Homo sapiens: one gene and its partners. The protein of the gene in region 2 binds, or shares a complex with, the protein of the main gene of each other region. Each region holds a gene or a part of one and is shown on either strand. Other genes may lie near its edges. A codon is read from its position in the direction of its gene.

The links.
Region 1: the proteins of PPP2R2A (region 2) and RBL1 are in contact, whole or in part, in a cryo-EM structure (PDB 9C6B), measured with the Homo sapiens proteins. Residues at the interface, in NP_002708.1 of Homo sapiens: Lys88, Tyr178, His179, Asp197, Leu198, Met222, Glu223, Glu224, Leu225, Thr226, Glu227, Val228, Ser247, Arg278, Ser279, Phe280, Phe281, Ser282, Glu283, Ile284, Ser287, Tyr337 (codon at 5,158), Phe343 (codon at 5,140); in NP_002886.2 of Homo sapiens: Ser615, Pro616, Leu617, Met618, His619, Pro620, Arg621, Val622, Val625, Arg626, Ser629, Leu632.
Region 3: the proteins of PPP2R2A (region 2) and IER5 are in contact, whole or in part, in a cryo-EM structure (PDB 8UO5), measured with the Homo sapiens proteins. Residues at the interface, in NP_002708.1 of Homo sapiens: Glu91, Ile92, Glu93, Glu94, Asp116, Tyr178, His179, Asp197, Leu198, Met222, Leu225, Thr226, Glu227, Val228, Thr230, Ser247, Phe280, Phe281, Glu283, Ile284, Ser287, Cys334 (codon at 5,167), Tyr337 (codon at 5,158), Glu338 (codon at 5,155), Asn339 (codon at 5,152), Asp340 (codon at 5,149), Phe343 (codon at 5,140), Lys345 (codon at 5,134); in NP_057629.2 of Homo sapiens: Ala7 (codon at 2,800), Arg9 (codon at 2,794), Ile10 (codon at 2,791), Ile13 (codon at 2,782), Ser14 (codon at 2,779), Lys17 (codon at 2,770), Arg25 (codon at 2,746), Gly26 (codon at 2,743), Lys29 (codon at 2,734), Leu30 (codon at 2,731), His31 (codon at 2,728), Lys32 (codon at 2,725), Leu34 (codon at 2,719), Leu35 (codon at 2,716), Val36 (codon at 2,713), Leu38 (codon at 2,707), Val39 (codon at 2,704), Leu40 (codon at 2,701), Arg41 (codon at 2,698).
Region 4: the proteins of PPP2R2A (region 2) and PABIR1 are in contact, whole or in part, in a cryo-EM structure (PDB 8SO0), measured with the Homo sapiens proteins. Residues at the interface, in NP_002708.1 of Homo sapiens: Phe84, Leu87, Lys88, Ser89, Leu90, Tyr178, His179, Asp197, Met222, Glu223, Leu225, Thr226, Glu227, Val228, Tyr337 (codon at 5,158), Asp340 (codon at 5,149), Phe343 (codon at 5,140); in NP_612206.5 of Homo sapiens: His81 (codon at 2,640), Ser82 (codon at 2,637), Ser83 (codon at 2,634), Arg84 (codon at 2,631), Leu85 (codon at 2,628), Ile88 (codon at 2,619), Lys89 (codon at 2,616), Glu92 (codon at 2,607), Arg99 (codon at 2,586), Glu100 (codon at 2,583), His103 (codon at 2,574).

Annotation. Positions count from the first base shown.
Region 1 is NC_000020.11:37,085,997-37,093,017, forward strand, and holds part of RBL1 (retinoblastoma-like protein 1), read right to left. Parts: intron 3,127-7,021; coding exon 2,993-3,126; intron 1-2,992. UniProt on the Homo sapiens protein: Key regulator of entry into cell division. Directly involved in heterochromatin formation by maintaining overall chromatin structure and, in particular, that of constitutive heterochromatin by stabilizing histone methylation.
Region 2 is NC_000008.11:26,364,488-26,371,508, reverse strand, and holds part of PPP2R2A (serine/threonine-protein phosphatase 2A 55 kDa regulatory subunit B alpha isoform), read right to left. Parts: intron 5,195-7,021; coding exon 5,103-5,194; intron 1,376-5,102; coding exon 1,096-1,375; 3' UTR 1-1,095. UniProt on the Homo sapiens protein: Substrate-recognition subunit of protein phosphatase 2A (PP2A) that plays a key role in cell cycle by controlling mitosis entry and exit. Involved in chromosome clustering during late mitosis by mediating dephosphorylation of MKI67.
Region 3 is NC_000001.11:181,084,643-181,091,720, reverse strand, and holds the start of IER5 (immediate early response gene 5 protein), read right to left. Parts: upstream 3,022-7,078; 5' UTR 2,819-3,021; coding exon 1,835-2,818; 3' UTR 1-1,834. UniProt on the Homo sapiens protein: Plays a role as a transcription factor. Mediates positive transcriptional regulation of several chaperone genes during the heat shock response in a HSF1-dependent manner. Mediates negative transcriptional regulation of CDC25B expression.
Region 4 is NC_000009.12:68,775,072-68,783,044, reverse strand, and holds the start of PABIR1 (PPP2R1A-PPP2R2A-interacting phosphatase regulator 1), read right to left. Parts: upstream 2,981-7,973; 5' UTR 2,881-2,980; coding exon 2,017-2,880; 3' UTR 1-2,016. UniProt on the Homo sapiens protein: Acts as an inhibitor of serine/threonine-protein phosphatase 2A (PP2A) activity. Inhibits PP2A activity by blocking the substrate binding site on PPP2R2A and the active site of PPP2CA.

The DNA of each region.
Region 1 (7,021 bases), on a different chromosome or scaffold from region 2:
GTGCAGTGGCGCTATCTCAGCTCACTGCAACCTCCACCTCCAAGGTTCAAGTGATTCTCCTGCCATGTACTGCTCTACATTTGTTTTGTTATAATTCTTTTTTGTTTAGTTCCCCCAGAATCTGTCATTACAAAGATTTTTGAAATTATATGAACAATGACAAACATTGACAGAAAAAGATCAGATTGTTTTATACTAACAATGATAATGTCTTGCTCAATTAAAAAATTAACCCCATTGATCTTCATTTAATTTTTATCATCTTATTTTATTTTTAGAACCAAAGTTGTTTAAAAACATTTTTTTTAGGCTGGACACGGTGGCTTACGTCTATAGTCCCAGCACTTAGGGAGGCCGAGGCGGGTGGATCACCTGAGGTCAGGAGTTTGAAACCATCCTGGCCAACATGGTGAAACCCTCTCCCTATTAAAAATATAAAAAATTAGCCAGGCGTGGTGGCGGGCGCCTGTAATCCCAGCTACTGGGGAGGCTGAGATCAGGCCATTGCACTCCAGCCGGGGCAACAAGAGCAAAACTCCGTCTCAAAAAATAAAAATAAAAAAAAATTTAAATTTAGCATCAACTAAAACCTATTTGCCATTTCTGAATAGGGCTTTAAACTTTGCTCCTCTTCTATTCTGGAAACACAGGAATAGCAAATAGACAATGACCACAAATAGTTTTGTCCCAGAAACAAAGAATATTAGCATGAATCCAAACTGGATAGCTAAATTTGTTTTGTTTCCTATCCAGCCAAATAATTCTATATGCTTGATACTAGAGTAAGTAAAAGATGTATCTGAGACCCATAGAGTAGCTGCAAGGTGAAAAAAATTAATATACAGTAGAGAAATAGGACAACATCTTGACCAGATGACAAAAATTAACATCACCAATGAGATGCAGATGGATAACACATGCCATCATCAGATGTGATATCCTCAGGAGACAAAATCACTTATACAGTTTTCCATCAGGGAATGACTAACCTGCATCTAATCAAAAGTTAATAGGAGACAAATCCAAAATTGGGAACCATCTATTAAAAGAGGGGATGAGGGTGGGCACAGTGGCTCACGCCTGTAATCCCAGCACTTTGGGAGGCTGAGGCAGGCGGATCACAAGGTCAGGAGTTTGAGACCAGCCTGGCTAATATGGTGAATCCACATCTCTACGAAAAATACAAAAATTAGCTGGGCGTGGTGGCACATGCCTGTAGTCCCAGCTACTCAGGAGGCTGAGGCAGGAGAATCGCTTGAACCCGGGAGGCGGAGGTTGCAACGAGTCCAGATTGCACCACTGCACTCCACCTGGGCAACAGAGTGAGACTCTGTCCCAAAAAAAAAAAAGGCTGAGGCAAGAGGACCACTTAAGGTCAGGACTTTGAGACAAGCTTGAGCAACATAGTAAGACCCTGTCTCTATAAAAAGATTTAAAAATATCAGTCAGGCATGGTGGCACATGATTGTAGTCTCAGCTACTTGGGAGGCTGAAGCAGGAGGATCATTTGAGCTGAGGAGTTTGAGGCTGCAGTGAGCTAAAAAGGTGCCACTGCACTCGAGGCCTGGGCAATACAGCAAGACTCGGCCTCTAAAAAAATTTTTTTTAATTAAAGAAAGGGACAAAGTGATTGTGGATTATATTCTTCAAAAATGGTAATGTCATAAAAGAAAAAGAAAGGCTGTGGAAATGTTCCTAATTACAGAAGAATAAATAGACATGATAAGCAAATGCAATACCTGATCCTTAATTAGAAATTGTACTTCCAGGAAAAAAAATGCCATAAAGAACATTATTGAATCAACTAACAAAACTAGAACAGAGTTAGCAGGTTAAATAAAATTATTTTATCAGTGTTAATTTTGCTGAAGTTGGTAGCTGTACTGTAGTTATTTAAAGAAATACACAGTGAAGTATTTTGGGGTAAAAGGCTACAAATGTATGCTACTTAGACTGAAATGGTTGAGGATAAAAAGAGAAAGATCTGGCTGGGAGTGCTGGCTCACGCCTGTAATCCCAGCATTTAGGGAGGCTGAGGCGGGTGGATCACCTGAGGTCGGGAGTTCGAGACCAGCCTGACCAAACATGGAGTAACTCCGTCTCTACTAAAAATACAAAATTAGCCAGGCGTGGTGGCACATGCCTGTAATCCCAGCTACTCGGGAGGCTGAGGCAGGAGAATCGCTTGAACCCAGGAGGCAGAGGTTGTGGTGAGCTGAGATTGCACCACTGCACTCTAGCCTGGGCAACAAGAGCAAAACTCCATCTCAAAAAAAAAAAAAAAAGAGAGAGAGAGAAAGATCTATATATTGAAGAAAGAAAAATCAAATGAGAAAGCAAATGGGATAAAATGTCAATAACAGGTGACTCTGAGTCAAGGGTATATGGGTATTGTCCTTTTCTTATTTTTGTAACTTCTCTGTAAGCCTAAAATTATTTCCAAATTTTAAAAAATTAATTTTAAAAAGTATAGCTAAAGATTCAACACAGAGGTTTCTAGCAGAATTTGAGAAAGGCAGAGAAAGAATATGAAAATTGGGAAAGGATTATCTATGTTATAACTTAGAATTAAATGAAGTCACACAGTGGCTCACGTCTATAATCCCATAGCACTTTGGGAGGTTGAGGTGGGTAGATCATTTGAGGTCAGGAGTTCGAGAACAGCCTGACCAACATGATGAAACCCCATCTCTACTAAAAAAAAAAAATACAAAAAATTAGCCGGGCTTGGTGGTGTGTGTCTGTAATCCCAGATACTCAGGAGGCTGAGGCATGAGAATCACTTGAACCCAGGAGGCAGAGATTGCAGTAAGCCAAGACTGTGCCACTGCACTCCAGCCTGGCTGGCACAGTGAGACTGCGTCTCAAAAATAAATAAATAAATAAATAAATAAAATAAAAATTAAATGAAGTCAAATGATCTCAAAACAAGAGAAAACTGATTCCAAAATTTAGAGCTTATATAACATTTAAAAACATCAAAGAGGTTTACCTTAATTTAGCTGAACGTAGTATTCTGGTAAGTGAAACACAGTTGCCTTCCATGATACCCTTTCCAACCGTGGGAATAATGCTTTTGCGGCATGCAACATATAATGAACATGCCAACCAGTGTGTAACTTCTCCCTGGCAAGCAAAAGACAAACAGCAAAACAGGTATAATATTATGTTAAAATGCTTTAATTCTAGAAACAAGAGATGTAGAATTATCTGGTCTCAATTTTCCTTATGTAGATAAAGGGCCAGAGAAGTGAAGATATTTGCCCAAGGTCACAAAGCTGTTAGTTGCAGTAATGGGTATAAAACTCCTTACTCTTAGTTCTGTGTTTTTACAACTATAACATGCTAAATTAATATTAATCTAAAGATAAAAGCCTGGCTTGGTGGCTCATGTTTGTAATCCCAGTAACTCGGGAGGCTGAGGTGCGAGTATCACTTGATGCCAGGAGTTTAAGACTAGCCAGGGCAACGTAGACTCTAAAAATGAAAATAAAAAAATTAGCCAGGCATGGTGGTGCTTGCCTGCAGTCCCAGCTACTTGGGTGGCTGAGGCAAGAGTATCGCTTAAGCTCAGGAGTTCAAGACTGCAGTGAGCTATGTTTGTGCCACTACATTCCAACATAGGCAGCTGAGCGAGATCCTGTCTCTTAAATCCTGTCTCTTAAAAAAAAAAAAAAGAAAAAAACTCTTTCACCTACACTCCAAATCTAATACAGGCATATGCCACATAACATCTTGGTCAACACTGGACCACATATACAATGGTGGTCACTTAAGATTATAATACTTGCCAGGCGCGGTGGCTCATGCCTGGGAGGCTGGAGCGGGTGAATCACTTGAGGCCAGGGGTTCAAGACCAGCCTGGCCAACATGGCAAAACTCCGTCTCTACTAAAAATGCAAAAAATTAGCTGGGTGTGGTGGCATGCACCTGTAGTCCCACCTACTTGGGAGGCTGAGGCAGGAGAATAGCTTAAACTCGGGAGGCAGAGGTTGCAGTGAGTAGAGATCGTGCCACTACAGTCTAGCCTGGGCAACACAGGGACACTCTGTCACACACACAAAAAAGATTGTAATACTGTATGTTCTAACTGTTCTATATATTTAAAAAATTATAATTTACTGTACCCCTTTTATGTTTAGATACACACATACTCACCATTATAGTTGCCTATAGTGTTCAGTACAGAAACATGCTGAACAAGTTTGCAGCCCAGGAGCAACAGGCTATATTAAACAGCCTAGGTGTATAGTAGACTACACTATCTAGGTTTGCATAAGTATACTCTGTGAAGTTCACACAACAAAATCACCTAATGTTGCATTTCTTAGACCATGTCCCTGTCATTAAGTGAAGCATGTCTGAATTACCAGAAGAGTTTTATTAAAATTTGTCAGCATGACTTTCTTGATTTTAAGAAATGGCCTTGATGATCCTGAAGTTTCTATCGTTTTTGCTTTATGTTTCTCTTTAGTGTGGCAGGGAAAGGCAAGAACAGAGTAAAAAGTTGGCAAGGGAGTCACACATAAAAAATTAATATTAATCTTACGCAACATGAAGGAGACTGTCATTTTTGTAAGGTAAACATTTGGGGATTTACCCCAAAACATGTCATCTTTAAAATACAGTCATATGCATTGCTTAATGACAGGGATATATTCTGAGAAATGCAACATTAGGCAATTTTGTTGTGCAAACATAGCATAGCCTACTAAACCTAGGCTATATGGTATGCTTATTGTTTCTAGGCTACAAACCTGTGGAGCATGTTACTATACTAAATACTGTTGGTAAATGTAACACAATAGTAATTATTTGTGTATCTAAACACAGAAAACATATAGTAAAAATAAAGTATGTGTGGTCCATCACTGACTGAAACATTCTGCAGCACACGACTGTAGTAAGCACGGCTCTTTATATTAGTAGATATCTCAATTTACAATGCCACAAAAAGGTGACATTTGGGAATTCAACAATTTTCTGCATTAGACTTCAGACATCTCCAAGCTAGAATCACTTCATGACTTCACTGCTGAAATACAATAGCTGAAGTTTAAGGATTAAGAATTACGGATAGGCCGGTGCGGTGGCTCACGTCTGTAATCCTAGCACTTTGGGAGGCCGAGATGGGTGGATCACCTGAGGTCAGGAGTTTGAGAGCAGCCTGGCCAATGTGGCGAAACCCCGTCTCTACTAAAAAATACAAAAATTAGCCAGGTGTGGTGGCGCACGCCTGTAATCCCAGCTACTTGGGAGGCTGAGGAAGGAGAATCACTTGAACCTAGGAGGTGGGGGTTGCAGTGAGCCGAGATCACGCCACTGCACTCCAGCCTGCGCAACGGGAGTGAGACTCCATCTCAAAAAAAAAAACAAGAATTACAGATAAAGGCCAGGCACAGTGGCTCATGCTCGTAACCCCAGCACTTTGGGAGGCTGAGGCAGAGGATTGCTTGAGCTCAGGAGTTCAAGATCAGCCTAGGAAACATAGTGAGACCCCCGTCTGTACAAAAAAGGAAAAAATTAGCCGGGTATGTGGCACGTCTGTAGTTAGAGCTACCTGGGGAACTGAGATGGGAGGATCATTTGAGTCCAGAAGGTTAAGGCTGCAGTGAGCTGTGACTGACCCACTGGACTCCAGCAAGGGTGAAAGAACGAGACTCTATCTCAAAAAAAAAAAAAAAAAGAATTACAGATGTAAATCTGATAGCACAACACAATAGTGTTCTTATACACTGTTCCACAGACTGTCTTTAAGACCAAACCCTAGAAGGATAAAAAGATTGATAAAAAGATTTCTTGCAATAATCTAAAAGGGGTGGGTAGAAATGGGTGGCCATCAATAAACCCAATGTTCCTACCCTGAAGGAATGAGAAGTCTTTTCTCAAAGCACTAAATGAGGCAGGTAAGCTTAAAGATGAATATTTTTACAAGCTTTGATTAATGAATTGCTTGGGAATAGGGTCTGGTCATGGTGGCTTACGCATGTAATTCCAGCACTTTGGGAAGCTGATGTGGGTGGACTGCTTGAGTTCAGGGGTTCGAGACTAGCTTGGGTAACACAGCAAAACCCTATCTCTACAAAATACAAAAAAATTAGCAGGACGTGGTGGTATGCGCCTGTAGTCCCAGCTACTCTGGAGGCTGAGATGGGAGAAGTGCCTGAGGCCCTTTTTTTGTCTCAAAAAAGAAAAAGAGAAAGAGTTGTTTGGGATTAGCATCCAAGTATTATAGAGCCTTTGGATACAGGCTACTAAATGAAAATTCTAGCAAGATGGTGAAAATATAAGTCCTAAAATTATTGTTTCGATTTTTTTAAAGACATTAAAGAATACACTGATTTTTATTTTACTTTTTAAAACAGGGTCTCACTCTGTTGCCCCAGGCTGGAGTGCAGTGGTACAATCAGGGCCACTGCAGTCTTGACTTCCCAGGAATGAGGGCCACTGCAGCCTCGACCTCCCAGGCTCAAGCAATCCCCCCACCTTAGCCTCTGGAGTAGCTGGGACTAAAGGCACATGCCACCACACCCAGCTAATTTTTGTAGAGATGGGGTTTCACCATATTGCCCAAGCTGGTCTCAAACTCCTGGGCTCAAGTGATCCACCTGCCTCAGCCTCCCAAAATGTCGGGATAACAGGTGTGAGCCACCATGCCCAGCCTATTTTATTTTGTGTAGAGATAGGGTCTCACTATGTTGCCCAGGCTGGTCTTGAACTTCTGGGCTCAAGTGATCCTCCTGCCTCAGCCTCCCAAAGTGCTGGGATTATAGGTGTGAGCCACTGTGCCTGGCCTGACTTTCTTTCCTTAAAAAAGTCAACTATTTTATTCCATGAGAATAAAATAGAATACAATTCTATTTGATAAAATCCTATTTCATAAAAATTCTATGAATTCTATGATATCAGAAACCATTTTTTGCATTTCTAAGGCCTACTTGCCAGGCCTTAGAAATACAAAAAATGTTTTCTGATCTCACAGAACTTCACATCTGGAGCTAAGAAGAGGAACAGATACTAT
Region 2 (7,021 bases):
AGTAAGGCAAAAATGAAATTAAGCACTCTAAAAAGTAGAAATTAAGTTCTACAAATTTGGTTCCCATTTACAACAATTTCATTAACACATAATGAGTTAAATAGAGACACAATGTATCCAATACCCTCATGATGGTAAAAAAAAAAAAAAAAACTAGTAGCATTTATAGATTGTGAAATCCTTAATAAAACCTATATTCAAAATATGTTCATAGAGAACCAATACCTCTCCTCCTGCATGTAAAAGAACACTTGTTAAAAATAATTAACAAAAATACCAATAAACAATGAAAACCCATTTTGTTTCACTGTGCCCAAAGGTATGACACAAAATATTGGCTACAAGAGGTAGGTTAAAAAGAAAAAGAAAACCAGATTCTCCATTCTTTGTCACTTTTATTCAGTAGTAGGTTTTTTTTCCTTATTTTCAGTGCCAGACACGGCGAGGAGTGATTACAGCCAACTGTTACTAAAACATTTGTTTGCAACATATACCCCCTTTATACCACTGACCCCAAACTGACTCATTTTGTGTGCTTTCATTCTTTCTTTTTTTAATATACCACCACCAAGACCGGGTGGAGGGGGCAAGGGTAAGAGATGAAGGGGAGCAGTCCAGGAGGCCAGAAGAGGAGGAATGCTACAAGCCACAGTAAGAATGAGCTGTATTTAATTTAAAAAAAGGGGGAAGGGGTGTACCCCACAAATGATACAGTAATGAGGATACACAATTAAATCCCATAGCATGACTGAAGGCTTTCACTGTGTTTGACGTCATCACAATGGAAGGCATAAAAAGTGGAGTAAATCAATGTTGATACAGTCCAATCTAGTCCATTAGGCAAGATGGTGCAAGAAGTCATTTAAATTAAAAGTGCCCTACCCTTACCTAAATGGCTAGCAGACATGGAGAACACCACAGTGATGAATCCACAGAGCTTTCTCCATGTAGCTATAACAATGTGTTGTCGAATGGCACACTGTCAAACACTGGAAAGGGGCGCCACAATGGACCTCTCTCTTTTATAGGAACGAATGCTAGATTCAACTATCTCAACTAAGCAGGAAGTGGGTTCTTCTGCTAGGAATGCCAACCCTAATTCACTTTGTCTTGAAATATATACAGATTGTTTGTAGTAGCTACGGCAATGATATTTTCCTTGGGGTGCCAGGCTGTGTGAAGGATTTTCTTATTGAAGTCTAGGCTGTCAACACTTATTTCATCTTTCTTTCGCTTGCCACTTGCACAGACTTTGCGAGGCTTCAGAACTGTGCGAGGCTTATTGTTTTCCCGCGATGCTTCTAGGGTTATGTCTCGCTTTGTGTTTCTGTCAAACATTCTGAAGAAATTATTGTAAGATCCAGTCATGACAACACTGTGAAAATAGACAGTACACTCAGTCAAACAAGCAGAACAAGAAATTGTTTTCAAGTAAAATGATTCGGCAATTAAACCATAGGAAGCTACTTCAAAAGCAGATTTAAACTAAGGGACAGGGGCTGTTGACATCAACTCAATCACTAGAATAAACCAGAAATACGGTACTAATTAACTGGGTTTTCTGCTTATTCTTTTTATGGCTACCAAAACTATCAGCAAAGTTGACAGCATCCTCAAGTAAAACTTCTTAGGAGTGCAGAATTATCGTTGTTAAGTATTTTTGCAACTACAGGCTATGTGATCAACCAGGCCAGCCAGCTTCTCAAAGGAGCAACTATCTGTGGAACTCACAGGTTCTAAAACAAAAGAACCCCGCATGAAGTAGCTGTAGCTGTTCACAAGAAACCAATGCTTTATCTTATGATTTACATTTTTTGGGCCGGGCGCAGTGGCTCACGCCTGTAATCCCAGCACTTTGGGAGGCCAAGGTGGGCAGATCACGACGTCAGGAGATCGAGACCATTCTGGCTAACATGGTGAAACCCGGTCTCTACTAAAAATACAAAAAAAATTAGCCTGGCGTGGTGGCAGGCACCCGTAGTCCCAACTACTCGGGAGGCTGAGGCAGGAGAATGGTGTGAACCCGGGAGGTGGAGCTTGCAGTGAGCCAAGGTCGTGCCACTGCACTCCAGCCTGGGCAACTGAGCAAGACTCCGTCTCGGAAAAAAAAAAAAATTAGCTGGGTGTAGTGGCACGTGCCTGTAGTCCCAGCTACTCAGGAGGCTGAGGCAGGAGAATCCCTTGAACCCGGGAGGCGGAGGTTGCACTGAGCCAAGATTGTGCCACTGCACTCCAGCCTGGGTGACAGAGTGAGACTCTGTCTCATAAATAAATAATCTTCTCAGGGTATTGTCTGGTTCAGATAATCACATTTAATAAATGCTTATGTTATAATCTGCTCCTGAGAATATTAAGTGGTACATAATGTGTGTGTGTGTGTGTGTATAATTTTTTTTTTTTTGAGACGGAGTCTCGCTCTGTTGCCCAGGCTGGAGTGCAGTGGTGCGATCTCGGCTCACTGCAAGCTCTGCCTCCTGGGTTCATGCCATTCTTCTGCCTCAGCCTCCTGAGTAGCTGGGACTACAGGCGTCCGCCACCACGCCCGGCTAGTTTTTTTTGTATTTTCAGTAGAGACAGGGTTTCACCACGTTAGCCAGGATGGTCTCAATCTCCTGACCTCATGATCCGCCGGCCTTGGCCTCCCAAAGTGCTGGGATTACAGGCGTGAGCCACCGTGCCCGGCCTATATATATGTATTTTTCAAGACAGGGTTTCACTCTGTCACCCGGGTTGAAATGTGGTGGCACAATCACAGCTCACTGCAACCACAACCTCAACCTCCTGGGTTCAAGCAGTCCTTGCACTTCAGTCTCCTGAGTAGCTGTGACTACAGGCATATGCTGCCATGTCCAGATAATTTTTAAATATTTTGTAGAGACAGGGTCTTGCTATGTTGCCCAGGCTGTAATATTTTCTTAACAGAACATCATTTTACTTTTACCACTTAGAACATTTTAAGCAAATATTTATAAAAGTATCAGTTTAAAGGGGTGGCAAAATTTTTAAACTGCCCAAGACACTTCCTTGTCAGTTCTATTTGCCACCCATTACTGCTCGACATTTATTAAGTATCCTCACAAACAAAACTTCGTAAGTTTGAAGCTCTTAATTTGGAAAGGGTCTGCTACCGCTGCTTACCAATGGTTCAAATTATTATTGTAAATAAGGATTACAGGATACTGGGGAATTGTTCAAAGTAATACTTACATACAAAGGTCACCTACTGAGTACAAATTATTATCTATTTAGTAATGTCAATTCCCAAAGGACACTTGGCAACAACTTTAATCAAACTCAAGGTAATGCGTGCCCCTGAAGATGACAAAACTGTATTTCTTTAAAAATGGCTTGTGTAATTTAGATTGACATCCCCATATCATCTGAGTTTGCGTGGTTTTAATGTATTAGGACACCTAGGCTGTGGCTACTTGAAACTTTAAAAAGGTATCATTAGGCCAGCATTTCTGTGGTATTCCTGCCAAAAATGTATAGCCTGAATCTAATCATGAGGAAACATTCTATAAAATAACTGGCCTGTGTTCTTCAAAATGCCAAGGTCATGAAAGACAAGGAGAGACTGAGGAACTGTTTCAGAATAAAGGAGACTAACAAGAGATGACAACTAAATGCTGGATACTGAACCAGACTGACTTTGTTCTGTGCCATAAAGGACATAGTTACAGTAACTGGTCAGTTTCAGTGGGTCTCCGGATTAGATGGCAGTACTGCATCGCTGTGAATGTTGCTTTGGATGCTGCACTGTCACTATGTTGGAAAGTGTTTTTGTCAGGAAATACTCATTCAAGAATTTAGGGTTATGGGCATCACATCTGGCGTAAATGGAATAAATTCCCATGTGGCACACAAGTTGCATGTGAGCACATGCGCACGTACCTATGTGGACAAATATAGCTATAAATAAACAGAGAATAGAACACGTGATACAGCAAACAGCGACAGGGGAACCTGGGTCAAGGCCAGCCAAGAGTTCTTTGTGTTATTCTAACAAATTTTCTCTAAGTTTGAAATAGTTAAAAAAAAATTTTTAATATTAAGGAAAACAAATCGTTTTTTTCTGATAATAGAACATAAAACTGCTAATTATCTGCTTAAATACAATGAAAAACTGGTTGTAGCTGTGCGCCACACCTTATTTCAGTATCTCTTTACTCTTCAAATTTGTTAATCTTTTTTTTCTTCTTCCCTTTCCTTCTTTCTTCTTGATGCCTCAGGTTTAGTAGTAGCACTCAAAGGCAATGTTTGCTATTAACAGAACTCTAGGTTTACTAGTCCTTATGTCAAAAATCAGATAATTTTAAAAGCCAGATGAAAGAAAACATTCTATAAGTTCTATTATCCTCTGTAACACACAACACCATGAAATCGGAATCATATTAAGCTCTGTGATAAAACTGTTGTTGAAGTATCTCTGATTACTTTAAATGTCAGTTTAATTCCAAAATTATGTTTTACTACTTTCTGTTCTACTGGAACATAGTGGCAAATAGACAACTAAAAGACTCAAAGTAAGACTTATTTTATCTTTAAATAATGGGTAACATTTTACTAAAAATGAATACGAAAAAGGAATTACACTACGGCAAAACTGGAAATTATAAAAAGCAAAGGATAACTACTACTAAAATTTTAACCATATATATTATGGTTAACATCATACATAACATACATATGAAAGACCACTTCTATGAGGTGTTAATGTAGCATCTGGAAAACCTGGTGTTTCTAACAATCCAAATGAGTTATCTGCCGCCTGAATGTTTCTGCAACAGTTTAATGGAAGAATAACAACCAAGCTGAAGCTTCACCGTTTTAATGGTTAGCATGTCAGAAATGTGATCTGGTTCATAAAAGAAAAAAAATTCTAGACATTTAAATAATTTAGATTACCTAGAATTTGTGTACTTTTATATTTACTAGTGAAATACAATGCTTTAATTTTTTATCTACCAGTACTGCTGTGCTATATCTAAAATTACTAAATTTATTTCAAGGAATCCCTAGAGACGAAGTTAGGACCTGGAATGAAATAGTTGTTTCTTTTCTTTAATAAAATTCATATTTGAGAGGTTTGACTTAATTACCTGTCAGATCCATTCCAACAACATTCAAATTTGTCAAATATGCAGTCATTTTCATACAGTGAACAGAGTTTACTTCTGAGGTATTCATGCACCTGGGGGAAAAATACAAATATACTGCACTGAAATTAGGAAAATGATTTAACAAGTCCATATCTTTAAAAAGAAAAAAAGGGCATATACAGACACATACACACACCTTTTAAACCTATTAATCTCAATCTTCTCAGTAACAATAAAGGCATTTTGTCCTTTTACAAAACACACAAGCCCTTCAGGGAGGTACATTTTCCTACTGGTATGACAAAGGAAAACTCCATTCTGGGCATGGCACACATAGCCTTTATAAGCCTGAATAAAACATTCAGGCCAAAAACACTTGAAAATGGCACAGTTAAGAGACTAATAAAAGAACATTATAGCAATATCTGAATATCACTATTCTTGGCTTTCAGTCCATTAACTACTGATAACAACACTGAAACTGTGCCTATTTCTTTCTTAAATACCATTTTCTGGGCATAAATTTAACTGAAGCCTATATTTTCCATTATAAATGCACATGTATGCATAGCGTAACCATGCCTTGGTTTGGTGATAAATTATATGGTTATTCTGGGCATATATTATTAAAAATTTGATAGTATCATATTATACAATGTCAAAAGCTAACAAAGCTGTGCCTGTTTTTTGAATTATATAATTCTGTATTTACTAATATGTCAAAAAAGGATAAACTAGAAATCTCATATTTAAAAAGTCTGAGAAATATGACATATTTCAACATTAATATTAATTACAAACAAAAGTTCCAAAGTATTTGTTGTAACTCAAAGGAAAAAAGGAAGTGTCTATATTTCACCATCTCTTTTTAAGGAGCTACTTAAGGAGAAATGACAGAAATGAGAAGGTACCTTCTAAATGCTTAGAATTCTCTATTCTATATGAAACAATCTAAACTTATTTTCAGTGTCTATTTTAACTTTAAATATAGTGGAATGATTCAGGCCATGTCTCTGTGACATTAAGTGAAAATCTGTAATACAGAGGAATAGCAACTCATGTGGGGTTAGGATCAAAAGTGAGCATGTAACACAAAAAAATCAGTAAGAAAAAAATACCCTTCAATCACACAAAACTTGGCAAGATGCTGGTACAAATTCAATAAAAATAGTTTTATCTATATATGATACATTTGCCTATAATGTGACTACTTTTAATCACTACTCCAACTGTTTATAAGTAGAAAAGTAGCAAATCAGGTAAAATTAGGTAGATTATCATAATTTAGCAACATTTTAGAATGCACATTATAGAGTTTCTCACTATACATCAGTATGAAGCTAAGCTTCAAATCAATTCTTCTCAATGGGAATGAAATGATGGTGAGGGTAACTAGGAGATATATCAATCTTGGCAGTTACACAAATAGAAGTCTTTTTTCAGTATACACGAGGGATGGGTTCCAAGAACCCCAGGTATACCCAAATCTGCAGTTAGCCCTGCGGAACCCACACGTGAAGTTTTGGCCCTCCATATATTTGAGGGGTTTGCATCCCTCAAATATTGTATTTTCAAATGTGCATTGGTTGAACAAAACAAAACAAAAAATCTGTGTATGAGTGAACCCATGCAGTTCAAATCCATGTTGCTCAATAGTGAACTATACTTTGAAAAGCAAAGCAGTATTTTGTCTTTTGTTTCAGTGCAGTATTTATTTTGAAATTTCACGTATCAAAAACAATCTTCGTTTATGTTTGTCAGAGGATTTAAAGTTTGAGAAACATACTTCCCAGTCTATTGAGAATATATAACATAAAGAAAGTATATGTATAAATTAGAGTTAAGTGATTTCAACACTGCAGTCTAGGGCCTAGCACAGGTTTGTGCTGTCCCTCACCCTGTTCCAGGCTGTGTACTTC
Region 3 (7,078 bases), on a different chromosome or scaffold from region 2:
CCTGGCAACTGTACCGTATTTTAATAAACACCATTCCCTAATTGATTTGCTTCTGAAATAGATTACTGAATACCTTTCAAACATTGAACATGAAGAGACAAAAAACTCTCTTAATGGCAGTGATTTTAGTAAAATCGATGGATGTTTTGGCTATCATCACCTAAGTGTCTACCATGACCAAACACTGATGTCACCATTTAAGTAACAAAACAAATCAGGAAGTTTTGCTAAATGAGAACTAAATTTGCCTAGCCCTCCTTCCTTATCTGGTTTGATGCAAACAATTTCCCTCTCAGCAATATATTTACTTTCTAGATGTAAGAGAAAAACTGAAAATTTACATCCTGACATCCACTGTGATGCAGAGGTGGACCTGACAATTTGGACAAGTCAGTCTCTTTCATCTTCCTATGTCAGTTCGAATGGGCTTTTAAGGTAAACTACTATCTAAACTTTTTTTTTTTCAATTACAAAGCTAAAAGATGACCCGTATTAATAGCTTAACAGGAAACAAAGTTTTGCTGAAAAACATTTTTGTGGATAAGCGGGGCTTCAAAAGTTGGTTAAATTACTTAGTATTAGACACCCACATATTGGGTGACAAATTGGTCTAAACTGACCTTAGAAAAGGCAGTTGTAGTGGCAGGTTTCTAGAACCTGACAGGTCGCCGATATTAGTATCTAATAGCAGTCCTCTGATCTAGGAGGAAAAATTAAACGTGTCTCTCTTGATACTTAGTGGAGTCAGTAAACAATGTCCTCAGTCTGCGAATGACTGATACTAAGAACCACACCTTCAATTTTCTAGCTCAGGCCCTGGTTTCCCTCCTCCCACTTCCCTCCCAACCCAGGCAGGTTATTACAGACAAGCAGGCAGTTACGTTGCTTCAAAATATTTAATACGTGTTAGACACGTAGAAGTTACATTTTTATACAAAAATCAATACAACGAAGGAGAAAATACTGTACAAAAACCTTATCAGCTCCCCCAACCTTTATACAACAAAGACTGGAGTCACCATATCTACAAAACCATAAGGTCTTTCCACTTCGGGCTTCTGTCTGTAAACTCTCATTAAACACTTTTTAAAAGCACTGTGTAGTACTTCTGACCTAGAGCTTTTAAAAATATATCTTTTCTCTATAAACTCCATTATTTCCAAGCTTGAACTCTTCTGTGAAGTTCGTCAAGCTTTTTCTCCCCTGCGGGGAAGCAAAGGACCGTTAATACGCCCCTTTCCTAGAGTAATCACAGGATATAAACGTTTCTTCATTGGGAGAGAAAGGTGGGGAGGGACAGAAGGAATCCAAGTCTGTGCTCTTGGCTAAATCCCTCTCGTCTTAGGAAATCCTGTGCGGAAACGCCACTCCTGGCCCTGAAGCGGGTCTAGCTTTCCGGTGAGGGGTAGGTGTAAAGTCCCTCCCTCCCCGGAGAACGAATGGGGAACTCCCCGGCCCAAACCTTTTAGCCGCTTCCTTCTCCACGCAGCCGGCAGAGGAAAGTCCCTGTCTGCCCCCAATCTCTTAAACCCTGGGGAAGGAGTGGTGCATTCCAGAAGAGCAAAATAGTCTTAATGCCACAAGACAAACTTACATACACAGACATACACAAACACAAAAGTTAACGATCGTCCTCTTCCAATGAGCCTCAAGCTCCCAGGTCTCCAGATAAGCCAGATGCGCCCGGGGGCAGTTTGCGATGCCCAGAGGCAACCAGTCTGCCCAACGCGCTCAGCGCCCGCGGTCTCTGGGCGTCCTCGCAGCCGGGAAGGGCCTGGCCCTCACTTCGGGGACGCCCGCTGCTCCACCTCCTCCCCGCAGGGGGGCCAAGGGCTCAGAAGGCCACGATGGCTGTGCTCCAGGGGTTCATGTCTCTCAGCACCGGCTTATCGCAGCAGATCTGCCCGGGCTCGGCGGCTTCCGGACCGCTCTCCTCTCCCTCCTCTTCCTCTCTGCCGCCCCCGGGGCTTTTCCGTAGGAGTCCCGAGAAACTGGAACCGAAGATGCTGATGAGGTTAGCCACGTTCCCGGTCTCCATCTCCTCCGCGTCGTCGTCCTCTCCTCCACTCGGCGGCTGCTCTAAGTTCCGGCGGGGCTTCTTGAGCGGGGTCGAGCCGGGCGCCGGGCAGCCCGCTGGGCCGCCGCCCACCCCCGCCGCGCAGCGCTTCCTGGGGCACACCGCGGGCGGCGCGGGGGGCTCGTCCTCCGCTGGTTGCGGCGCGCAGCAGCAGGCAGCGCGGGGGGTCGCGGCCGGTGTACCCGGCGGGTCCTCCCCGCCTAGGGGGCAGCCGCAGGGGCGGCGCGCGGCACGAGATACCTCGGGGAAGACGCCCCAGCCTCCGGCGGTACCCTCGGCTTCTCTGGCCGCCGCCTGGCGCGGCCCCTCCACGCGGCTCCAGGCAGCTTCCGTCGCGTCCGCCTCTCCGCCCTGAAAAACGTCCCCGACTCCAGTCACCGTGGCCACCGGCACCTCGTCCCCTACCCGCGGCGCGTCTGAGACGGAGGAGCGCTCCGGCTGCGGCTCGGTCTCCGGCCAAGAGGCACGAGCGGCGGGCGGGGGCGGCTCTCCCCAGCCGGCGGGTGGCCCGGCCGCCGGCTCCCCGGGCTGCTGCTGCGGTGGCGGCGCCGGGGTCCCAGCGGGACCGGCCAGGTAGAGGCCGGGGCACGGGTCGCTCAGGTAGACTTGGCGGGCGCTGCGCAGCACCAGCGAGACCAGGAGGTTCTTATGCAGCTTGATGCCGCCGCGCTGGACCCGCGAGTTGTAGATCTTGCCCAGAGAGATGCTGACGATGCGATGAGCCTCCAGCTTGAACTCCATCTGCTTCCCCTGCACAGGGCCGTCGGCGCCGGGGTGACACGTTTGGAAATTGGGAGGGAACGGGAGGCGCAAACAAGTCCGCCCCCTGGGCACACCCTCGATCACCTAAGACTCCGAAGAGAAACGACTCTGGTGACGCGCGCGCTGCTCTACTAACCTCTCCAAACAAGACAACTTCCCCGTTTCGGGTCCGGTCGCTAAACAGGGCAGCCTGGCTGCCCCGCGCCTTATATAGGCTTCTCGACCGCCAATCACGAAGGGCCGCCAACCGTTCCGGGGCTGGCCGGCGCGCCCTCGTGCGCCGCGCACGGCCAATCGGAGCCCGAGGAGGGGCGCCAGGGCCCGTTCGAACGTTAGTCCCGCGGAGCAGGCTCTTAAAGGGGGCGACGGCTTGCGGCCGCAGACCAGGCCCGTGGGGAGTGAATGTTCGGGACGGTGCTCGAGAGCGCTACTGTTTGGAGTTACAGATTCTGGCTTGTGCGATGGCTTGCCGGAACCAAAGCGAACAAAATATTCGAACTTTCTTCCGAACACGGTGGTGGACTCTGTTCTGCCATAAAGTCCTGATCCTTCCCTGATCGACTCCGCCCTCACCAGCCACACCACCGTTTCCAGGCCGGCCACACCTGTAAGCGACCCCCCTCAACCCTGGCAAAAATAGAGATGGTGGCCATACGCGGCGGAGGACACCCCTGGATAACAAATAGTATTACTGCAAAGTATTTGGCAATCATTATTTTTGGATGAGCCGCTTTCCCCGCTAGAGTCACATACACTCTTAGCAGCTGTCAGTTCTAACCCCAAAGAAAAGGGGGATTCTAAAAGTTTTTGCCTAGGTTTTTGGCTTCTTTTCAAGGAATCGTGTCTAGATACAAAGTTATTGGTTGTCCTCTAAAGCTGGCATCTTTCACTTTGTTCTCTAGATTCTAGAACAAACCCAGTTATCAAATAAGTTAAATGGAAGATGTTACAGGTTCTCCACAATGATTTTTTTTTCCTTTTTTTTTTCCATTTCCATTTTTCCATTACAAGGACTGACCAGTCCACCCTTGGAAAAATCGAGCAAGTTCTGAAAATAAAAAGAAAGAAGTCCTGTGTTCCCATGATGATGTCATAATTTCATTTCGTGTCAAGGTAAAAATATAGTGCTAGGGAGTTCCAGAATTTTCTGGTCAGTCAACAACTTAGTCCATCTACTGGTCCTTATAAGTATATCAGGACACAATTACCACGGGGTTGCCCAGGGTCCTGGACTGGAAACATGGAGTCACTTCCAGTTAGTTCCACCGAAGCTCCACCACAGACCTGCCTGAGGACTCTGGGTAAATAACCTCAGGCCGCTTCAGTGTCTCCACTGCTGAAAAGGGGGAAGTCACATACACATCTGCGTTATTGTACAGACGATAAATGACAACTTCTCAGCCACAATCTGAATGAGAAAACTAAGCACTGCTTTCTTGGAGTCCATGTGGAACCCTGGGCCTGATCCTGCCCCGGGGTTGGTCAAGCAATGAATTTATTTAGGAAAAATACCAGTGAAGAGTGGGCTTGATCATGACCAATTCACAATCTCCAGAGGATGTGATGGCTCAATAGCATTACCTGTGCCCACAACTGATGGTAACTGAGACAGCAGGCTCTGAGACCCAGAGTTCCTCCCCTCTAGGAATTTTCAGCCCACGTAGAGGAAGATATAAAATAATGACACGAATAATTACAAAACCAAATAGCATATATTGAGTAATGACACAAGAATTTTTCTCTTCTCTTTTTCTTTGCAAGTTATTAGTCACTATAAAGCAATGGCTAAGAGCACAGGCTGAGGAGGCTGGCTTCCTAGGTTGGAATCCCAGCTTCACCTTTCACTTGCTGCATGGCCTCTGGAAAATTACTTCACTTCTCTGTGCTGCCGTCTTTTTTATTACAAAATAATCAGCCGGGTGTGGTGGCTCACGCCTGTAATCCTATCACTTTGGAAGGACAAGGTGGGCGGATCACTTGAGATCAGGAGTTCAAGACCAGCCTGGCTAATATGGTGAAACCCTGTCTCTACTAAAAAAAAAAATACAGTAATTAGCCTGGCATGGCGGCAGGTGCCTGTAATCCCAGCTACTCGGAAGGCTGAGGCAGGAGAATTGCTTGAACACAGGAGGCAGAGGTTGCAGTGAGCCGAGATCACACCATTGTACTCCAGCCTGGGCAACAGAGTGAGACTCTGTCTCAAAAAATACAATAAAATAAATATAAATATAATAATAATAATGCCTACCTCTTAGAGTTTTTGTGAGGGTAGAACAAGGTAGCACATGCAAAGCTCATAGAACAGCACCTGGCATATAATAAGCTATCAATGTAGGCTAGTTCTCAGAACACACTACCCCACATACTACCCTGGGGTGGGAGAAGAGGCTGGGAGAAGAAAGGAACATAGATGGGAGAAAGTTTCACCAAAGAAGTTGTATCTGAAGAGGGTGCTGAAAACCTCTGAGGTAGGATCCACAAGTTCCAAGCAGCAGGAGCAACAGAGTCCAGTGTAGGGAACATCTTACTTTGCAGTTGTGCTGGGCACATGCCCAAAAGCAAGTGGGAAAGGCTAGAAACAGAGGCCGAGGCTGCATGATAGTGGGTTGTGGGTGCCTTGATGAGGAGATAGGACCACAGGGACCTTACTAAAGGTTGTTCAGTAAGGGAAGCACAGAATAGATTCTAGAACAGTTGGTGCATAGAAGAGCACACATAAAGCTCTTGTGGAAATTTAGGCAAAGGGTTGTGAAGACCTGAACTAGGTGGAGGCAACAAGAATGAAGAAACTGGCAGGGCATGGTGGCTCATGCCTGTAATCCCAGCACTTTGGGAGGCCGAGGTGGGCGGATCACGAGGTTAGGAGTTCAAGACCAGCCCGGCCAGCATGGTGAAACCCCGTCTTTACTAAAAATACAAAAAATTAGCCGGGCATGGTGGCACGTGCCTGTAATCCCAGCTACTTGGGAGGCTGAGGCAGGGGAATTGCTGAAACTCAGCAGGCAGAGGTTACAATGAGCGGAGGTCGCACCACTGCACTCCAGCCTGGGTGACAGAGCAAGACTCCATCTCAAAAAAAAAAAAAAAAAAAAAAAATGAGGAAACTGAGAGACAAAAGAACTTTAGTGATGATCTGGGATGCTCCCACTCACCCATCCAGGCAGGTTATTGCTAGTGTCAAGCCTCTTGCCTTCCATGAAGGCTTTCTGACCTGCCTGAGCTGAGCTTTTCCATCATCCACCACTGTACTCAGCACACTCCTTCATCATTGCCCTCATCACTTTCTCCTGTCATGCCCAGTGTCCCTCCCAGACTATGCCCTCATTGAAGGCAGGAGCCCAGCTCATATTTGTAGCCAGGATATGGTGAAAATACATAACAGCTGGTGCAGTACAGGCACTAACCATCAGAACAGGGTCCTGGAGGCCCTTACAATGCTAGGGGTTTGGAGGGCTCCTGCAAGAGGGGCTGCATGGCCAGTAAGGGGGCTACTCACGGGCTTAGGGCAGAGGTTCTATCAACTGACATGGAAACATTTCAATACTTTAACAACTGGGTTGGCTGTACCAGTGCATACTGAGTGATTATACACTTGGATTAATGAATTCCTAATAATAATAATGTTTACCAAGCACTGTGCTAGACATAGTACATGCATTATTTAGCACATTTATAAAGTTCTGAAAGTAGATATCATTATCTTCATTTACATTTAACCTACTTAAAGCTCCAATGTGGGGTCATGGGGCTAGATTGCCTGGCTCCTCTTCTCACTGCTGTGTGACCTTTGGAAAGTCATCTCACCTCTAGGTGAAATGGGAAATCCATATTTTAGTTTGCTTATATAGGCAAGTTATTTAACCTCTTTGTGCCTCAGTCTCCTGTGAAAAATGGGAATAATAAAAATAACTAAATTGCTTAGTACAGTTCCTAGCACCATATAAACACTTATAATTCTTAGTTATTGTTGTTATTATGGTTATTGTTATCACACCAGTGCCTAGCACAGTTCTGAACACATAGTAGGTACACTCTTAGTACTTGTTGAATTTTTAATGCTTTTTCTGCTGTACCACATAATAGGTGCTTAATAAATGTCTGATGACTTGCAAGTTGCACATTATCACTGTCATTATCAGGATTTTCTTTGATCCTGAGCCAACGAAATGGAACCTTTAGAACTCATGTCTGGAGGGCCCGAGTTCGTATGATCAGGAAACTTCACCTCCACCTACCAAA
Region 4 (7,973 bases), on a different chromosome or scaffold from region 2:
AGATCACTCAGGCAAGAACTTAAGGCAAAATCAGGGGCAACAGATAGAGAAGGGAAGAAATTTGAGATTCATTTCAGAAGTTGACAGGACTTGGTGATTAAGCTAATCCAACAGAGAAAAGGAAAAGTCAAAGATGCTTCCATAGTTTCTAGTTTAGGAAATCAGTGATGACATCAATTGAGCTAATGCAAGAACAGGTGAAGTGAGAAGATTAACAATTCCTGTGTTGAAGATAATGAAGTTCAAATACCTCTGGAGGCAGGGCAAGTTACCCAACAAGAAGTCAGGCTATTTAAGTTTGAATTTCAACAACAGGGTCGAGAATGGGAGCACATGAACACTATTACTCAGAAGAGAGAATTTTAAACCTGTGGACACAGTCTTACCCTCGATGCAATTTCACTCCATCTTGAGGCAACTGTCAAGAGTTGACCAGTTCCATTTACTCTCATAGTTGTAAAAATTCCACAAAATTGTTAAAGTCTCTGTAAGCGATAACTTTAAACAGTCAGAGCTTTTGTCTTGTTCTGAGTCATTTTTCCCCTTTCCTCTTTGTATGCCATTCTTTCTGTCAAACTATCTAGTTAAGGAAGATATGTGAGGTATAAGGATGCATAATATAAAAAAATTTTTGCTATTCTTATTAAACATTTTGTCTTAATTGTAAAGGTAAAGAAAAGAACATTCGACTATTCTAACTTTAGGAAAACCTAAGTTAAATAATGATTTACCTATGTGACTCTCCACTAATTTTCTCTTGCAAATCATCACCCCTTAATTAACTGACATCCCCAAGGCAGTCAACTCAAGCTGTAGCTTTAACCACAGAGGTTAAACAATTCACAGTCCTGTTGTTGCTGTCAGAAACCCAAGTTACACTGTACCTTTGTCTAATCAATGGTGCCCTAGTTTGGTGGGAGATGGAGAGGAAGGGACCTGTTGGCAAGGAAACAGCTGCTTCCTTCCTGAACAAGGGAAAACCAGTAAGGTGACAGATGGGCAGAGCAGAAAAGTAGCCAAAAATTGCTGTGGCTCCTGTTTGGCAATAATTTCTGGAACTGAGGCACAACTGAATATTTTAAAGTATATCAACAATTGAGAGAGTATTGTTTACCTGAGTGCGCCAAAGTTCAACAAGCCTTCCCACACGTTTCCCACATTTGAAAAACTTTTAAGTTTGCAGTAGTACAAAGAGCTTAGCCTTAGCCTATGTATAGTGGGCAAAGACTGCAAGGCACTGTCCCATTTCACTTTAGGATTACACCCAAGCAAATGCACTTTCCGGTTAAAAAAAAAAAGGAAAAAATTTTATTTTCTCTATAGTAGTTATAGTTGTATGACTGACTAGAATTACTATTAAAATCTCATTAAAAATGTTTTTCTTAAAAGTTTACTTTTATATACTTAATTTGAAAAGATTTGTTCAAACTTTTATAATTTGTTCTTTAATCATTCCCCCTCCCATCCACTTCAGTACCCAGAAAACTAAATATCCAAGAATTCCTGGGTAAAACAGACAACCACTAGATAGATATAACTAACGTATTTTTTTAAGCTGTATAGTTCTTCATCAAATGGAAATCGGCAACCACTGAAAATAACATTAAAAATTAGTGTGGGCATGAAGTATGGAATTTTAAACATCAGTTTACTATGCTGATTAAGTCAACATTTATATTTTCATCAGAACTTAATAATCCCATAAATAAATAGAGCTCTCAGTTATTTAAAAAAATCAAGGGATAACATATGTATTTAGACATATTAGCAGCGTAAAGATGTATGCTTCAACACACTTATTGGGGAAACGTCTGAAAATATTACTACACTGAATTCAAGGGTATCCAAAGGAACCTGACATAGAAGTTCTCTAGAATAACATCATTTCAGGGAATTTCAAAAAAGAAAAGGGGTCAAATAGGAAATAGCCTCAAATTAATTGACAAAGTTCAGTGTTTGCCCCAACTAGATTATTCTCTCTCTCCACTGCAAAAAGAAAGTCTCAGGATGAGTGAATCACTTAGACGAAAGTTCATCTAGTGGAATAAATGGAGAAGCCGCTTGGGCAGGTGACACAGGAGAGTCGGTGGTAGTGCTGACTTTCGCTGGTGAGTTACAAGAAGATCCGGCACTGCTGCTGTTTCCATCAAGGGTATCCGAAGATACACACACACCAGGATCTGACAGCTGTGCAACGTCAGAAGAAAGCATGTTGGTGATGCCCTGGAAAAATCTCTTTGGCTGATATTCAGTTTCCATTTCACATTTTCTTTTCAATGGTCCAAGAACACTTGGTCTAATGCAATTGATGGGGCTCTGGCTTCTCCGGGTGGTAAATCGGGTCGTTGGGCTGGGAATAGGGCTTGGAGGCAATCCGTTGCTACTTACAAAACTTTGCAAGGATGGCGAAAAACACTGCTTCCCAATTCCCCGAGTGGGTGACGGTGCTGGTGACACAGGAATGAAATCGATGCGCTTGGGGGAGGCGGATTTCTCCACGTCGTTGTCACTCAGGCTGAAACTTTCCTCCCAGGAGTGGCTTATCTGCATTGCGGTCTGCACCTCCCGTTCGTGGACCGTCTCTCGGTTGATCAAGTCCATGCCCTCTTCTTGTTTGATCTGGTGCAAGCGGCTGCTGTGCATGCGGACAGGGGAGGCCGGCAGCAGCAGGCCGTGGCGGCTCGGGAACGTTGTGCTGTTCCGCCTGGCGCTCGGCGCCTCGGCCTGGAACACCGGCGAAGTGTCACTGAGGCCGTGGATCAGGGGGGCGCTGTTAGACCTCCTGAGGCCCCCGCCGCCGCCGCTGCCACCGCCCTCCGCCGGGCTCCCGCCCGTACCCGGAGGCAGCTCCAGGTCTAGCTCCATCTTCTCCTGAGCCATGTCGGGGGCAGGGAGGCGGGGGAGGTGCTCAGTCAGGGACCTAGGATTCCCATTCCCCGCAGTCCAGGGCCGCCGCCGCTGCCGCCGCCACCGAGAATCTGTCAGCGGGCTGGCCCCTCTGCGCATGCGTAGCCCTTCGCGCAGGCGCTCGCGATGTCCGTACTCGCGGCGCCTGCTTAATGCGTAATATGTGCGCGGCAGTGGTAGGGGAGGGGCGAGGAGTGGTCGGGCCGCTAGTCCGTATATTCCTTCGGCAAATAGCTATTGAGCGCAAGCTCGCGTTGACGCATGTCAATAAGATTGTCATATTCTGGATTGCATACTCATAAAACAAAGCCCTGAAAGAGAGGCCCATGGTGATGTGGGGCTGTATGACGTGGAGTGGCGCTTGGCCTAATCAGGGAGGGCTTCCTCGAGGAAGGAACAATCTCCTGAAATCTGAAGAAGTGGGCGAAATGGGTGCGATGTAGAACTTTGCAGGAAGCGGGAAGCAACGGCTACCCAGCCAGTTGGCAGGCGGGAACCAGGAGGGGAGGAGAAAGTGTGGCCTGGAGTGGAGAGTGAGGGCTGGCCTGACGTGAGGTGGTGGACCAGACCACATTCTGGTCTTTATCTTGAGAACAATGAAAACTTAAAGGGTTTTCAAGCATGGGTGTAACAGCAACTGAAAAGCTCACTGGCCTGCAGTCTGGAGAATACATATTGGGAGATTAAAACCTTACAGAAAAAAGGCCAGAGAGGATGGTCATTTGCACTAAGGTGACAGTGTGGCAGTGGAGATGGAGAGAAAAGTAAATCTGAGAACTATTTAGGTTAGGGGAAGAAGCCAAAACAGAGGATGGTATTGCTATTGATTTACAGTCATAGTTCCAGCACAAGCATATGTGTGAAGTATGAAGGATTAAACCAGTAGGTCCTCACATTTTAAAAATGAAACCACAATTCTTGGCTCATGTAATTAATATAAAACCTTGATATCTCATTAAAAGTGAGTTTATTTGTTCATTTATTCAGTCAGTCAAGGTTTTTTTTTTTCAGCATACTTACTATGTGCCAAACACTGCTAGGAAATGGGCCCTAGTATGAACTTTTAATTCTTACTGAGGGGAAAATAGAGAAACGCAGGCTATTTTCAGATAGTGGTAAGCCTTAGGAAAAGTAAGATGGTGTGATGGAGCACTACTGATAGAAGTCAGGGGACAATTAGAGTTGAGATCTAAATGACAAGAAGCAGTAAGTCACGTGGACATCTGGGGAATGAGTATTCCAAGCAGAGAGAATAGCAAGTGCTAAGGCCGGAGGCAGCCATGAGTTTGATGAGTTAGCAGAAAAAGAAAAAAGGGCAGTGCCGCTGAAGCATAAGAGCGGGAGTGTTAGGAGAGGGTAAGAGTTGGATCTCATTCTGAATATGATGAAACGCCACTGGAGGGTTTTAAGCAGGGGACTGATATTATCTGGTTTATGTTTTAAATATCACTTAGGCTCTGTGGAAAACAGGCTGAAAGAAGACCAGAGTGGAGGCAGAAGGATGAATTCAGGACCTATGGCAACAGTACAGATAAGATTCTTGGACTAGGGTTGTAGCAGTGTCAATGGGGAGAAGCAGAGAGACTGAGGATATGTGTTGAGTTAGAACAAATAGGATTTGCAGATGGATTAAATTTAGATTGTGAAAGAAATAGATTATTCGAAGGGGACTCATAGCTTTTTTTATTTAAACTGGTGAGATGGTAGTATTATTTACTGAGAGAGGAAAATAGCACATTTAGAGTTGTAGAAATTAAGAGATCTGAAGCAGAAGAACACAAGGTGGAAAGAACCAACATTTTCTAAGTGCCTACTCCCTGCTAGGCACTTTAAACACTCCATAATCCCACTTAATCCTCACTGCATAGATATTGTTATACTCATTTTACGAAGGAACGATTGAGGTTCAAAAATTGCAAAAGGCACTACAGCCAGTACACGGAAGAACAAAGATCTGAACCAATTTGAATCAAGGACTCATTTCAAAAACCTGTATTGTTTTTTCTGAATTTCACATGGATTAAAGAGAGAATTTCGCATGAATTAGAGAAGGATGGCTAATTCTGAGACGAAACAAAGGTCTAAAACCAAAGTTGGGAAAGGCAGAAGGAGATGGATTTGGGAGACAAGGCAACAACAGAACCTAATAGCATGCTGTGCAGAGGATGAACAGGAGACACAAATGACTGAAGTTCAACTGTAAGTGGCTGAAAGAATGCTACAAATTATTCAATAAAAACAGGAGAGAGGAGGAAATGTCTACAAAAAAATTAATATTAGGTAAGTAGAAAAGAACATTAAATATAGAACTCAATTTATAATACCCACAGCATATTACTGTTAACTTCATATTACTACATTATTATCAATGTGGCTCAAATGTACCAGATATTGTTCGTCCATGTCTGGATAAACATAATAATTACCTTTACTAATAAAACACAAGGATGGTGATGAGCCCACAAAATAAAACATATATGCTATTTGGTTCTTGCCTGAACACACCTATTAGAGATCTTAGCTGGTTTCCCAGTTTCTACCCTTGTCCTTGTAGAGCTGGGGACAGAGAATTGACTGAGTCATGTATGATTCAGTGCTTTCAGGTCCTGGCACAAATATTAATACTGATGGAGAGGCTTTCATAACTGTTCCTTATAAAAAGCAATTGCAGTTCTCAACACCAAGTCTACATTTGCATGCCCCTTACTCTGTTTTTATTGTCCTCCGGAGTACCACATGACATATATGTATACATTTTCTTGCCTGTTTCTTTGCTGAGAAAGTAAGCTCTACAAGGGAAAGACCTTTGTTTTGTTCTCTGTTATATGCTTAATATCTAGAACAGGGCCTGGCACATTGTACTGAGTAAGTACTTGTTGAATCATTGTGTGAATGCATGATAATGAATGAAAGGATGGATTAATATAGCTTTGTCTAAAAGGGAAGAGAACTCTATTATTTGAAAATCCAGTCTAACAGGCTTTTCTACACTGATTCTAAGAGCTCTATACCTTGATATATTTTTTAAAGATCAGGAATATTATTATTATTTAGAGTGCCCTCCAGCCCATGCAGGTGTGTTACTGGAACTACCCATTATGTGACCTAAGAAACTGAAGCCCTAGGTTTTCTTTCTTTTTCAACGATATGCTAATAAAAATTTGATAGAATTAAAATGTTCAGCACTGAGGATTCTAGGCAGTGTTTAATATATTGAGTTACTACTTCCTTTCGAAGGAATCAAGGACAAATGAGAGAAAATAGCAGCCATAAAATGCAATGTAGCCAGCTGCAAATGAATAATGCCAGAGGCAGGATCCAAGGAACCTCCCTGGCTCATTTCCCCCTTCCGGTTTCACTCCCATGAATTAAATACCACACTTAGTCAAGATTCATTCTCACTGTGAAGCCACAAAACCAGACATCTATTCCACAGTTAAACTTTATTGTGATTAATATTAGATTTTTAAAATATTACTTATATTTTAAAAAATATTACTTATTTTTAGGTTAAAAATAAATAGTTTAGGGCCAGGCGTGGTGGCTCACGCCTGTAATCCCAGCACTTTGGGAGGCTGAGGTGGAAGCATTGTTGAGTCCAGGAGTTCATGACCAGCCTGGGCAAGAGAGAGACCTCATCTTATAAAATTAAAATAAATAAATAGCTTAAAAATGACCATAACAATATCTAGAATTGGGACAGAGTCCCAATCTGATATCTAATTTATAAGATCTCAATGAGGAATAAGTGGAACTAGAATGTTTAAAGTGACTAGCAGGGAGTAGGCACTTAGAACAATATTATTATTAGATAGTTTTCTTTTAATTTCTGAGGGCAATTTTTCACTATTAAATTTCCAAATATATGACAAGGCAAATTTCTACCTCTGAATCCAAATTGAATGAATGTAAAATACAAAAATGTGTGTATGTATATAATCTAAGATGGGCTGGCAAATACCTCAATGTTCCACGTTAATTAGCATCAACAACCTACAGTAAAAATACTGCAGAAAAAACTGTGCTTTAAAACCATAGGAACTTAGGGTTAACTGTTACAACCACTTAGGAAAAATATTTTGCTGTACCTATTAAAAGAAAATATATTTATAGCCCACGACTAAGGAATCCTGCTCCTGACAATATAACCAAGAGAAATGAGGGCATCTGTCTACTAAAAGACATGCACAAGAATGTTTCTTGCATTATTATTATTATGTGTAATAGCTCCAGACTCAAACAACCATAAACAGTTTAATTATACAATGGAACTCTTTACCCAACAACATGGATGAGTTACAATATAATGTTGAATGAAAGAAATTAAGTACAAAAGAATACATACACTATGACTTCAGTGTTATGAAGTCCCCAAACAGCCAAAACCAACTTAGAAGTCAAAATAAGTAGTCCCCTCCTACCCACAGTTTTGGTTAACCTGTGGCCAACGTTGGTCCAAAAATATTAAATGGAAAATTCCAGAAATAAACAATTCATGAGTTTTAAATTACATGCTGCTGTGAGTGAGTGCCATGATGAAATCTGGTGCCGTCGCACTCCATCTGACCTGGGACATGAATCATCCCTACAACCAGTGCATCCATGCTGTCTATGCTCCCTGCCCATTAGTCACTTAGTAGCCATCTCAGTTACCAGATTGACTGCTGTAGCAGTGCTTATGTTTGAGTAACTCTTATTTTACTTAATAATGGCCCCAAACACAACAGTAGTGATGCTGACAATTGTAATATGCCAAATAGAAGCTGTAAAGTGCTTCCTCTAAGTGAAAAGGTGAAAAAAAATATGCTGAGATTGCTAAGATCTGTGGTAAGAACAAATCCTCTATCCATGAAGTTGTGAAGAAGGAAAAAGAAATATGTGCTAGTTTTGCTGTTGCACCTCAAATTGCAGAAGTTACGGTGACAGTGTGTGATAAGTGCTTAGTGAAGATGGAAAGGGCATTAAATTTGTGGGTGGAAGACATGAACAGAAAGCATTCCAATTGATGGCAATGTGTTGCATCAGAAAGCAGTAAGCCTATATGAAGATTTCAGCAAGGGATCCCC